2 separate regions of the Homo sapiens genome follow, and region 1 is reported to be linked to region 2. Evidence: microRNA targets listed by miRTarBase, many of them from high-throughput screens and not tested one by one. Region 2 holds a microRNA gene; the other region holds the end of a gene's coding sequence.
Evidence for each region. The annotated mature microRNA hsa-miR-4505 reads AGGCUGGGCUGGGACGGA and lies in region 2 at 2,363-2,380, shown strand. An mRNA with a match to its seed (bases 2 to 7 or 8) in the 3' UTR can be bound and repressed. Matches are read on the target gene's strand: a 7mer-m8 pairs with bases 2 to 8, a 7mer-A1 pairs with bases 2 to 7 and ends in A, and an 8mer does both.

Region 1: miRTarBase lists DNAJB9 as a target of hsa-miR-4505. Seed matches in the 3' UTR shown: 7mer-A1 at 3,944-3,950.

What each region holds. Positions count from the first base shown.
Region 1 is chr7:108,572,071-108,578,144 of GRCh38, reverse strand. It overlaps DNAJB9 (DnaJ heat shock protein family (Hsp40) member B9), which reads right to left. Exons shown (of 3, transcript NM_012328.3): 3 at 3,295-5,246. The coding sequence ends at 4,792. Among named protein-coding and RNA genes, the nearest start is that of DNAJB9, 5.2 kb to the right of the region's middle.
Region 2 is chr14:73,756,387-73,762,460 of GRCh38, forward strand. MIR4505 (microRNA 4505) reads left to right here and starts at 2,361; the gene lies at 2,361-2,433. MIDEAS (mitotic deacetylase associated SANT domain protein) reads right to left here and starts at 3,917. Exons shown (of 13, transcript NM_001367710.1): 1 at 3,377-3,917. RefSeq lists silencers at 1-274, 2,585-2,694, 3,055-3,204, 3,335-3,574 and enhancers at 114-193, 1,885-1,934, 3,995-4,324, 5,240-5,762, 5,763-6,074 and 1 more.

The sequences.
Region 1 (6,074 bases), not on the chromosome of region 2:
CAGAACTTTATTTCTCACAGTTCTAGGGGCTAAGAAGTCTAAGATGAAGGCACTAGCAGATTGACTGTCTGGTGACAGCCCTCTTCCTCATAGATCTTCTCTAACCTCACATGTAGAAAAAAATGAGTGATCTCCCTTGGGCCCTTTTTACAAGGGCACTAATCCCATTCATGAGAATTCTGCCTCCTGACCTAATTACCCAAAGGCCCTATCTACTAATACTATAGGAATATGGGGAGGACATAACCATTCAAACCCTAGCACTCACCTAAAAAGAAACATATTTAGCAAGGTTTGAATCCCAACCCAGATTTCACAAATCTATTTAAACATGATTTTTTTTTTCATAGCATACTTCTTACTCCTGCAGAACATCATTCTGAAGAATAAGCTATTGCTACATGGATTGAATCATAGCTGATACTCTACTAAAAAGTCCACGATAAAAATTATGTCCACAAATGTTTTGTCAAATGATTTAAGAGCACTTAATCTTGCTGCCATTCTGTTTTAAACCTGCTTCAATCAGGCTCACCCCTAAAACTTGATAGAAATTGGCATCCAGGTCATTTTTGATATCAGTATTGCTAAAAACAACAATGGTTAGTTCTCAATCATCGTCTTACTGGATTTAGTGGCAGTATTTTACAAAGTTGATCACTTTCTACTTCTTTCTTTTCTTTTTTTTTTTCTTGAGATAGAGTCTCACTTTGTCATCCAGGCTGGAGTGCAGTGGCATGATCTCAACTCATCGCAACCTCCACCTCCTGGATTCAGGTGATTCTCCTGCCTCAGCCTCTCAAGTAGCTGGGATTACAGGCACCTGCCACCACACCTGGCTAATTTTTGTATTTTTAGTAGAGGCAGGGTTTCATCATGTTGGCCAAGCTGGTCTCGAACTCCTGACCTCAAGCAATCCACCTGCCTCGGCCTCCCAAAGTCCTAGGTTTACAGGCGTGAGTCACCATGCCCAGCCGCTTTCTACTTCTTGATATATTTATTTCACTTCCTTCCAAGACACAAAACTCATTACTCACTGGCTGCTGCTTATCAGATGCCTGTGTAGGCTCCTCATCTTCTTTTTGCATTTTTAGAGTACCAGGGGACTCAGTTATTCAATTGCTCTTTATGTCTCTACACATTCCCTCAGTAATTTCATCTACTCTCAAAGTTTTAAGTATCACATGTTTTGACAATCCCAAAATGCATATTTCCAGCTTCACTCTCTCTCCCAAACTTCAGACATATCTCCACCCATTTACTCATCATCTCAAATTTGATATATCTCAGCTGAACTTCTGATTTTTCCTCCTAAATTTCTTTCTGCAGCCTCTCCCATCTTAAAGGCAACTCTGTATTTCCAGTTACTCAGAACATGAAGCTTAGAATCATAGTTTTCTCCTCTGTCTTTCACACCTACATCTAATCCATAAGCAAATCCTGGTAGCTGTACTTGCAGAATACATCTGGAATCCAACCACTTCCTACCACTTCCACTGCTGCCACCCTCGTGCGATGCACAAGCTGCAACAATTTCTCATCCTAGAATACTGAAATAGCCTCCAAACTCTCTCCTTGTTCCACCATTGCCCCTCTGTCTATTCTGAACAAAGCACGTGGAGTGACCCTTTTAAAATGATTTAAAGATCAAGTCATTTATCTGCTCCAAGCTCAGCCACCATATCACATTCCAAAATCAAATCCTTTACAAAGGTTGGCAAGGCCCTAGGTGATCTGTAGGGCTGCTTTCAACCCCTCTTATCTATGAATTCATCTCCTTCTACTCTGGTTTGCTCACTGGCCTCCAGTTATGCGCACTTCTTTGCCATTCCTACAACTTCCCACATATGCTTCCACCTTCAGTACAAACAATTCCCTTCAAGCATCTGCTCAAATTTACCTTCTCAATGAGGCCAACACTGACAATCCTGTCAAAAATTGCAACACATCCTCAACCTGCCTGCCCTCACAATTCTCCTCTCCTGTGCTACATTTTTTTTCCATACTTTATCAGTTTATAATTTATTCATATGGTTATTGCTTGTCTTTTTCCATAAGAATGTAATCACCCCCACCATCCTGCTCACCAGTTACGGTGTATCATAATGAGTAACAGTAAAAAGAACTGCACAATAAATTTAGGTAGCTCCACATTAGGGCAACCTCTGGAGAGAAGTTTGCGAGGGAGTTGAGTAACAAAGTTGAGATATGAGGAAGAATATGAATTTCAAAGGAAAAAGTAGGCCTGCATGGTAGGAAACACATGTACCACACATCTGTTACCTCCCATTGACTTTGGTTGTTAGATGTAAATGTAAACCAAATGTAAGTTCACATTACTTCATCTGTTCTGACACCATCATTAAAGAAATCCTGAAGTAAGCAGGTTAAGACAAGAACTGTCCTTATCTGTTGATGCAATATTCTATTAAAAAAATCTGATACTAGAATCTTAAATTCAATCTCTGAATTACATTGTCAGGGCTAATCATTGGGGCTTCTTTTCCTAGCTATCAGTTTTCCTTAAATGTCTGACATTCTTTGGACATCAGTATGTGTTTATGAAGGATTAGATCAAATTGCACAGATAGCTGAGAAAAGCAGTTTCTTCAGCAGTTATGTGTCTGCATTAGACCTCCTTTTTGAATAGAAGCGATGGTTCTCAGTAAATTGTCAGGCAGTGGCCAATCATAGCTCACTGCAGCCTTCAACTCCTCCCACCTCAGCTTCCAGAGTATCTGGGATTATGGGTGCATGTCATCACACCCGGCTAAATTGTCAGGGTTTTTTAACCAGCAGGTACCCACAGGTGAGTATGTGGTCTGCATGCAGAGAAATTGTTTCCCACCAAGCCAACATAAGGAGGCTTTACTCTGGGAGTGCTGCCATTTCTCACCAGCACCCCCTTGACCTTCAAGTGAAAATTCACTTCACCTTTACTCTGCCTTCACCTCACACCCTAATACCCTCAATGGGTAAGTCTTCCCCCAAATAACCCCATTCTTTCAAGACTTGTTTAGTCCCTTGCCTGAGGAAAAAGTTACTTTTGTTAACAACTGTTTACCTGGAGGGAGTAGCTAAGAGCAGAGCTTTCCAATGCAGTTCTTCAATAAATTAATATGAATGAATTCTGCACCCTCACCCAAATCCAATCCTTAAAGCTTCTCCAGGACATCCTGATTGTGGTTTTTCTGATTTATCTCCCAAGCCACACTCTTCTGCTTTATATATTACTGGAATGTCTCAAAACTTGATTTTTTTTAAAATAGGCTACAGATAATCCTCAGCCCAAAATTCAAGGTATAGCTAATTTTATTATTATCAAACAAAACTAGTAGATATAACTTCCAGGAAATAAGTTACATAAATATAACAGAATAAATTCATTTTCTTAAGTTTCAAATTAAAGATGATTAAGAAATACAGCTTTATGTAAAGTTTCTGCTTTTTCTCAACCACGCCTAAAGAGGAAAGAACTGGCAGCAGGAACACTTGCTCCTAGGAAACAAATACAACAAAATTATAATTAAAAAGATCTTCAAGCTATCAAAATTTGTGAGAGAAGGATGGTAAGAATGCAGTAGAAATTACCAAATGACAAACAAAATCCTATCAGTTTTCAGGTTGGTCAAAAGTAACTTCATGAATATAGCCTGTGATCAGCATATGTCCCATAGCTTATATGCCCTCTATACCTCCAGAGTTGCATAATAAACTTTTAACAATAAAACAACAACGAATATCAGGTTGTAAATATTTATATTTCTCTCACATACAATGTTGTATGAGACACTTGTTTTAATATGTATCCATAGGATTAATACTCATATGGAGTATAATGTGGAAAAGTGCAGAACTAAAGAAATAAGTCTATCCGAAAACAAAAGCACACATTTCTCAGGATTTAAAAATATTGCACATAGTAAGGTTGCACAGAAATTACTGGCTGGTTTTACAAACAGAATGAGGTATCAGTCAATCTCTAGATAAAGATGAGAGAGAGGATAAACTACACACACACAAACACATAAATCCATACTAAGACCTAAGAGTGCCAACAACTAAGAAAGAAATATGAAAAAGCTATGTAAGTAGCTATGATTTCAACACTACAAAATCATTTTTAGGCTGGAACCAAACACATAACAATCTCTTGGCAATATTTCGTTAAGTTTTCAACTTTTTTCCAGCCTAAATGACTATGGGCAATAAAACCATTTCCTTTACCCCAGTTCTACTGTAGAAAGGCACAGCGCTGTGGTAAATATCAAACCATTCCTTTCTCAACCTTTCAGTAGCAATTAACCAAGATACTGTTCTCCTTTACTGAATGACTCAATTATACAGTTTCATGTACACTCTGCAACGCAAGTCACAGATGTCATAGAACATGCAACTTTGAATTAGTAAAGGTTTCACTGCAAAAATCATTAGGTTCACACAATTTAAATCTACAATTAACTTTTAAAGTTTAATCAGGTAAACTCAATATTTTCTTGGTAATAATACTGGTGATATTAGTGAGCCCAAGGGCAGGTAGAGAAAAAGCACTAGGCAAAATTACGTGTTTTTTAAAGAAACTTTCCTAATCAGGGAAATAATTAGCATTTTGTCTACTCGTTGAATGTTGAATTTGTCAAAAAAAAAAAACCCTTAAATATATTTAATAGCTATATCAAATTGTTTAAAGTGAAATCATGCACTTGTCAAAATAGTTCACAGAAAATTGTTTAGCATCAAAGATAATGAGGAAGAGTCAACCAGTTGGATTTAGTGAGAATAGAATAAGAACTACTGTCCTGAACAGTCAGTGTATGTAGTAACCATATTTCCTCTTCGTTGAGTGACAGTCCTGCAGTGCTTGCTAGATCCATGAAATCTATTTTCAGTCTGTACTGTATGCTGATTGGTAGAGTCAAAACCACTAAAAGAAAACATTTTCTCCATATCTTCAAACATGTCATCAAATAATCCACCTCCAAAAGAAAATTCTTGGAAATGATGCCTTTGTCTACTGGAACCACCATCCTGGCGTGTCTGGAAATGATTTTCAAAACGCTTCTTGGATCCAGTGTTTTGGTTTTGACCAAAAAAGCCAAAGTCTTTAAATAAGTCATCAAAATTGAAGTTAAATGACTGCTCAAAAGAACTTCCACTACCTCTTTGTCCTTTACCACTAGTAAAAGCACTGTGTCCAAGTGTATCATACTCTTTTCGTCTATTAGCATCTGAGAGTGTTTCATATGCTGAAAGTGACAAAAATATTTTTAGTAACTGAAGGTAAAATATTCAAAATTACATATATTCAAATCTCTTCAAGCAAGTGAACTGAATACTATTATTTTAGGGAAGAATTTCGCATCAGAAATAAAAGCAAAACACTACAAATATAAGCATCAAGTTAATCAAAATTATAAAATAAAGCAGAAACTGTCTTATTAACTGCTGAGTTATCAGCAGTTGGCACAATGCCATCTGCAATACTCAATAAAGTTATTAAATGTTACCATTACTACAAATAAACATGTGGGCAACAATCAGAGTTCTTTAATCTTCATATTATTCGTGTGAAATCATTAATTGTATTAAAAAATTAAACCATCAACTATAACCAATTAATAGGAATTAAGATTTTGCACCTCCTTACTAAAGTAAACTGTTTAATTCTAACTCCCTACTCAGTTACCTCCATCCAACAATAATTACTGAATGCTCAGCAGGTGCAATTTGTTTTAGAGCTAGTCTGAAGTCAAAATTTGTTCCAATTTTTTCTTTGAAGACAAATATGGCTTTGAAAAGCAGATCAAGTGAATAAAGCACTTTAGAGTCTAGTTTAATTTTTAAGTCTTTAATGTTTAAAATGTAAAATATTCTGTTTCATAAGTTAGTTGATAAGAATTTTGGGTACCTAAAATTCTTTTTTGTCATAGAAGCAACAGTGATCTTATAAATAATATAGAATAGATTTTCAATATTTTTAGATACGTATACCAATAAAATTATCTATTATTCTTTCATATATTTATTCAGGAATCAAAGCATCTGTGATAAGAAAATAATCTCAGAGAATCACC
Region 2 (6,074 bases):
TTCATAAAATGAGCTCATAGTCTCACAGTATCCTGAATGTTGCTTCGAATGCAAATGCAGGTCCCTTAGTAAGAATTGGGGATTTCAGCCTACTCCACCCTAGCCCCGGCCCAGCATGCAATTTTTCAGTCCCAGAGTCAAGAGTTCTCATGTGCAGAAAGAAGCAATTCCTCCAACAGAATGCGGCCACTGGCTCTGCTTCCTGCCACCTGCAGTGAGTCAGGGAAGAATGGAGCCCCAGGCTGCTTCTGTACTGATGCATGCACGCCTGCACACACACAGGAAGGGTGCCAATCTGGGCTGACCAAAGGAAGTGCCCAGGCTAGCAGATCCCTAGGGAGATGGCTCCACAACTCTTTCACCCTGAGGTCCCCTTAGGGTCAGGATGACCGACACATGCACTCCACAAGGCCAGCTACAGGGCAGTGCCAGGAAACTGGGTTCACCAGCCCCAGAATCACCCACGGTGGACTGACATTTTTGAAACCAGTGATGCAATCTGAGGAGGTTCCAGGAGCAGGGACTCACTGGGCCCAACACATGACAAGTACACATTTTTTTTGATGGAGATCTTTCACTAATTTGTTCAACTAACATGCACTAAGACCAGGTGAGGTAGTTCAAGACTGTAATCCCAGCACTTTGGGAGGCCAAAGTGGGTGGATTTCTTGAGCCCAAGAGTTCAAGACCAGCCTGGGCAACATGGCAAAACCCCATATCTACAAAAATAGAAAAATTAGCCAGGTGTGGTGATGTGTACCCGTAGTCCCAGCTACTTGGGAGGCTGAGGTGGGAAGATTGCTTGAGCCCAGGAGGCTGAGATTGCAGCGACCTGAGATCGCACTACTGCACTCCAGCCTGGGCGACAGAGAAAGACCCTATCTCTAACAACCAAAAAAAAAAAAAAACACTAAACACTTACTAGATGCCAAGCAGCATTGTGGGACCCATTCAAGCAGAGGCTACCAAATACTGAAATGTGCTTTAAGCATTTTACGTATACTAACTCACAGAATCCTCACAGCAACTCTATGAAGGAGATACTGTATAGGAACTCTAACTCAGAGTCTTTGTTTTTGACCACCACACTGCAGTATGTACACAAATAACTACATAAGGTGGAAATGAGTGTTCAGAAGATGGCTACAGCCTTCAGAAGTGGCATTTGAAACAGGATTAGAAGGATAAGCTGGAAACCCCCAGCCACTTTGTGGCTGTCCCCACCCCAGCATGAGCAAAGTTTTCTTCTGGGAGACCCAAATGCAAGAGAGGGGCTCTCAACCTGAAGATTCCTGGACTGGGCCCATTCCCCTTCCCCTCTTCTGTCAGAGGTCTTGGCACCCCTGGGCAGCCTTTCTCTGGGGACTCTAGACACAGGAGGCCCTCAGCTGAATCCACAACTGCATGTTGTCTTTTCTTGTGTTCCACTTATTGAAAGCAGCAGCACACAGGGTCAAACACTGGGGCTATTTTAAAATCCCACATGTAAAAATTAAATTCTCATCCCCATGGGCACTCCAGGGCGCTCTTTCCTGGGGCGGGGTGAGGAGCTGACAGAGTCACGGGAGTGGGGGTTCTGCTGGCACTTGGAGAGGCCACACTGGCAGTGGCTAGGCTGTTCCAGAGCAAGCTGGCAAGCTGTATGACCTGGGGGCATCCTCCAGGTTCTTCACCCCCTTGTCCCCCCGGGAGCTACACGGACCAGAGTAACCAGCCAGAGGCCAATCCAATTAGAGTGGAGACTGGACCAGGGCCATGCAACGAGATGGTTTATCACAGTAATTGAATGTTTACGCTCCTATTATTCACTGTCCAGAGCAGTTGGAAAAGGAAGACCTACGAATTCTCAACCCGGGAAGGCTTCTCCTTTTCCCTGGGTTCTGAAGCCACTTAACACCCAAGGAAAGGGTGCATTTCTCTGATCCAAAAGGGGCGTGTGCCACACCTTTGGTGGGAGGCTCTAGAGCAAGACAGGTGGTTTCTCCCCTCAGCTGAGGCCCCCTAGGGAGGACTGGCTTCTCGGTCCACCTTCACTAGGCCTTCAGTCTCAACCCTGAAGCTACAGGAACAAGAAGATCCCAGATCACCTGGCCAGGCTCCCCCTGCTGGAGCAAGCCAGACATCCCCTCCCTCCCCCAGCCGCAGCTGCCAACAGGGATCCCCTGCATACGCGGGCCACCGGGGCCTCCGTGGCCAGCCTCTCTTCCCCCATCCCACCGCCCCCCGCGCGAGGCTCCACAGGCTGGCACACAGGTCCCACGTGGGATGGTGGAAACAGGAAGCAGCCACCGTAGTTGTGACCAACAAAGTTTTAAATGGGGCATATAACTTCCCCTTTCATCTTCTCACCAGCTCTCGCTGGAGGCTGGGCTGGGACGGACACCCGGCCTCCACTTTCTGTGGCAGGTACCTCCTCCATGTCGGCCCGCCTTGGGGCTGAAGCCTGAAGGCCCCAGGGCACACGAAGTTCCCCTTCCTCCCCTAGACCTTTACCCAGAGGCCTTGGGGGCAACCTGACACACATGGTCCTGCATGTGCGACTTGGGAGGCGACGTGACCAGCTCCACCAAGCCGGCCATATGCAGGGCCCGGCCGAATCCCGGGTTTCGGCGCTGCCGCCAGGCACCAGGGAACACAGCTCCCCGCGAGGCACCGCGCGGGCTGGGAGGGCTGCGGCGGCGCGGGCGTGCGGGGGCGCGCGGGAGGATGACAGGTCTGAGGTGCGCCCGCCCGCGCGAAGCGCTCCAGCCTAGGCCTCTGCTGACTGCATTTGCCCCAGTTCCCCAACGCCCCTGCACCTCTGTCCCCCAAACTCCTGGCGTGGACGCCGCGTCCAGGCCCACTTTCCCGTGCACGCTGGCAGGGGAAGGGGCTCCCGCGCCAAGTTCCCTCAGCTGGCTAGCCCCTCGCCGCGCCTTCCGGGCCTGGGCTCCGTCACGTCAGCCGGTCCCCACGGACACCACGTTTCTCTCCAGCGGAGGAGGAGCAGCCGGATTCCCGAGCCGCCGCGGGCCGCCGGGTGGGGAGGGCTTTCCTGGCGGGGCCGCGCCCGGGTGGGCGGGGGCCGCGCGCAAGCTGCGTAGCTGCACAAACACCGCGGGGCTGCGCTGCACACGCAGCTGCGGGCCGAGGGCGCGGACCGCGGGGGAGGGGGCGGCGGGCTGCAGGCGGCCCCCGCACGGCCACACGCGCCCGCTCCACCGCCGCCCAGGCCGCAGAAGTTCGAGCGCAGCGGCCCCCGCGGCCCCCTCTCCGGGCCGCGCCTGCAGAGCTGCAACCCGCCGTGCGAGCAGCCACAGCTCGCGCGCCGCCTGGGGTCCCCTCGCCGGCCCCGCCGCGTGCAGGCCTCGGCCGCCGGCCAGGCAGCCCCACTTACCCAGCTCTTGCCCGGGCTCCGGGCTCCGGGCTCGGCTGTCCCCCTTCCGCCGCGGGTCGCCGCCTTCGGTCGCCTCCGGGACTCCAGCCGCCTGCACGCACTCCCGATTTTAAAAACAAACAGGCGCCGTCGCCTCCCCGCGGCGCTCGCGGGGCTTCCGCCAGCCCGCGCCTCCCGAGGCTGAGAAGTTTGCTGGCAGGGCCCGGGCGGGACGCGCGGGCTGTCACCCCCCGCTTGCGATGCAGGAGCCTCGGCGCGCCCCGCACCCGTGCCGTCCGCCTCGCGAGCGCTCTGCCTCCCTCCGTGTCACCCCCAGTCCTGCGATGCAGTGTCAGGATTGCACGGCTCTGACTCATCGGTTGAGCTCACAGCTTGAAAAAAAAAAAAAGAGAGAGGGCGAGAGGCAACAGCGGAGGAGGAGGACTCTGGCGTGCTACAAAGGATTGCACAACTCGAGGCTGGGAGCGCGGAGCGCCCAGCGGCCGGCCGGCGCGCGCGGCACCGCGGCGAGCAGGAACCAGCTCTACCACTTCATCAGCACAACTGTCTCGGGGCGGCCTCAGCCAGCAGGCCCGGCGCCGCCCACTTCCTGCGACCAAATAAGGCCGGGGAAGGCGTCCTTAAACCTCAGGCGGCGGCCGGGGCTGGGGATTTCCAGCAGACCTCACCTCCACTCACGAGTCGGTCGCCGTCCCCATCCCCCGCCCAGGCTGGCGCCCCCGATGGCTTTGCTGGCGGGCCACGCTGCTAGTTCCTTTCACACCAAGGTCAGGAGGAGACGGTGACGAAATGTTTGGAAACCCATTGAGCCTGCCAGGAAAGTGTGTGTGTGATGCTGGGGAAGGCACAAGTCGCTTTCTTCCACAAAGAAACTCTCTCTGGTTTTGGATACGGTAAATCATGCACAATCCTCTCCATGGCATTTTATTAACAGACTCTCCGAGTTTCACTTTCTGGCTCAAAAGCGTCCTGGTGCGTGTAAAGGTTATTGAGAAACTGGCCTCAGTCCCTAGAAAGGACCCACCATCTCCATCGCTTAGGTGAGGAAAATCTCCTGGATTTAAATCTAGCAACTCAGGCCAGAGTTGAGCGGCTTTTCACTCCATACTCACATTTTCCCCTGTCTTCCCTAAATATCCCCCTGATCAATTCTCAGGTCCAGGCCTTGATGCCTCCTTGCCTGACTGGTGGGAAGATGGAAAACATTTTTGCAGCTCAAGAGGTTGGTTCTGGCCCCCACATTCAATGGGGCTCTAGGGCCAGGGGAAAGTTCAGGGGAGTGTGTCCTATTCTTCCTTCCAAGTTTTTTGGTGGTGGTGCAGTGGTGGTGGTGGCGGCGGCGGTGGTGGCGGTGGCTGTTTTTCAAGGAGATGGGTCACAAGGAGATTTTCCTTTGAAAGAAAAACCACCGAAGAATACCATGTGTCCTGGCAGCCACTTTTCAAAACACTGTGGCCAGACCTGAGAACCAGGTGCATCCCTCACTTTCTCAGGGAGAAGAGGAGGGAGGGGCAGCAGAATATGATTCTCACACACTCACTGGGCCTACAGGGCCAGGGTGGGGTGTGGAGGACACAGGCAAAACTTGGATCTTCTGCCCAGAAATCCTGCCAAACCTGCACTTGCTTCTAAGGGGGCATGGCTTTCCTGTCCTCTTCCACCTCTTTGCTGGCTGGAGCACCTGCGTACATGTACACCTGGAAGTCACACCTCCCCAAGAGGAGAAGGGCTTATTTGCACCATGTTATGATAGATATGTCAAAATAAGGAACACTTAAAACAATCTTATCTACAAAATACAGGTAATTATGCCACAGGACTGGACCAGAGGACCTCTTGAGATCCCTTCCAGTTCAAGATCCATGATTCTGTGATTACAGTAAGTGAATAGAGGAGCTAGGGAAACCACCTTCTACAAAAAAAAGCCCGGGCTCCCCGATTTAGCATCTGTGATGACAGTATTGTTCCTGGCAGCTCTCAGAGCACTTCTCCATACAGTCTCCTGAAGAGCCCTGCATGTGAGTTTTATCTCTCTCAATCTGTGGATGTACTGAGGTTCAGAGAGGTTAAGTGAATTGCACCAGGTCACAGGGCAAGCCAAGCATCTGTGACCTCTCTGCTCCTCCCCCAGAGGAAGGCAGTGAGCAATTGAGGAACTGCAGTGCTCAGGCCTGCAGACCCCCAAGCAGAGGCCAGACTCTCAGGGCTCCTGGCAAAGGATCAGGGTAGAGCCTTTTTACTTTTTTCATTTGCCTGATTTCTTCCCTCCCACTGACAACACATCCAAGTGAGGGAAGCAAAAGCAAAGCCATTTGGTCTCCAGTGCCCACTGCTGCCAAGTTCCTCTGCAGACCTGTGGCCATCCTCACCTCCCCTGAGAGCCCAGCCCCTGCAGTTGGCCTTAGGCCAGCCCAGAGTGAGCCCCTAAGAGCTTGTGCAGACCAGCCCAGGGATGTTCCCAACCAACCAGAAAACCTGACTGGGAAGCACATTGCTAGAAGAGCCTGCCATCATGGAGCCAGGGCCCAGCCTTCAGGGAACAGGTGAAAGCCACTCCAAAGGAGTGGCCCAGGAAGCAGCATACATAGTGGAGGCAGGTGGCAGGGGAAACAGAGAAGTCAGTGGCCCTGAAGGAGCCTTGCTCACCTTGGAGCGGCACCGCCCTTCACTACAGCTAAACTTCCAAATTCAGGCCACC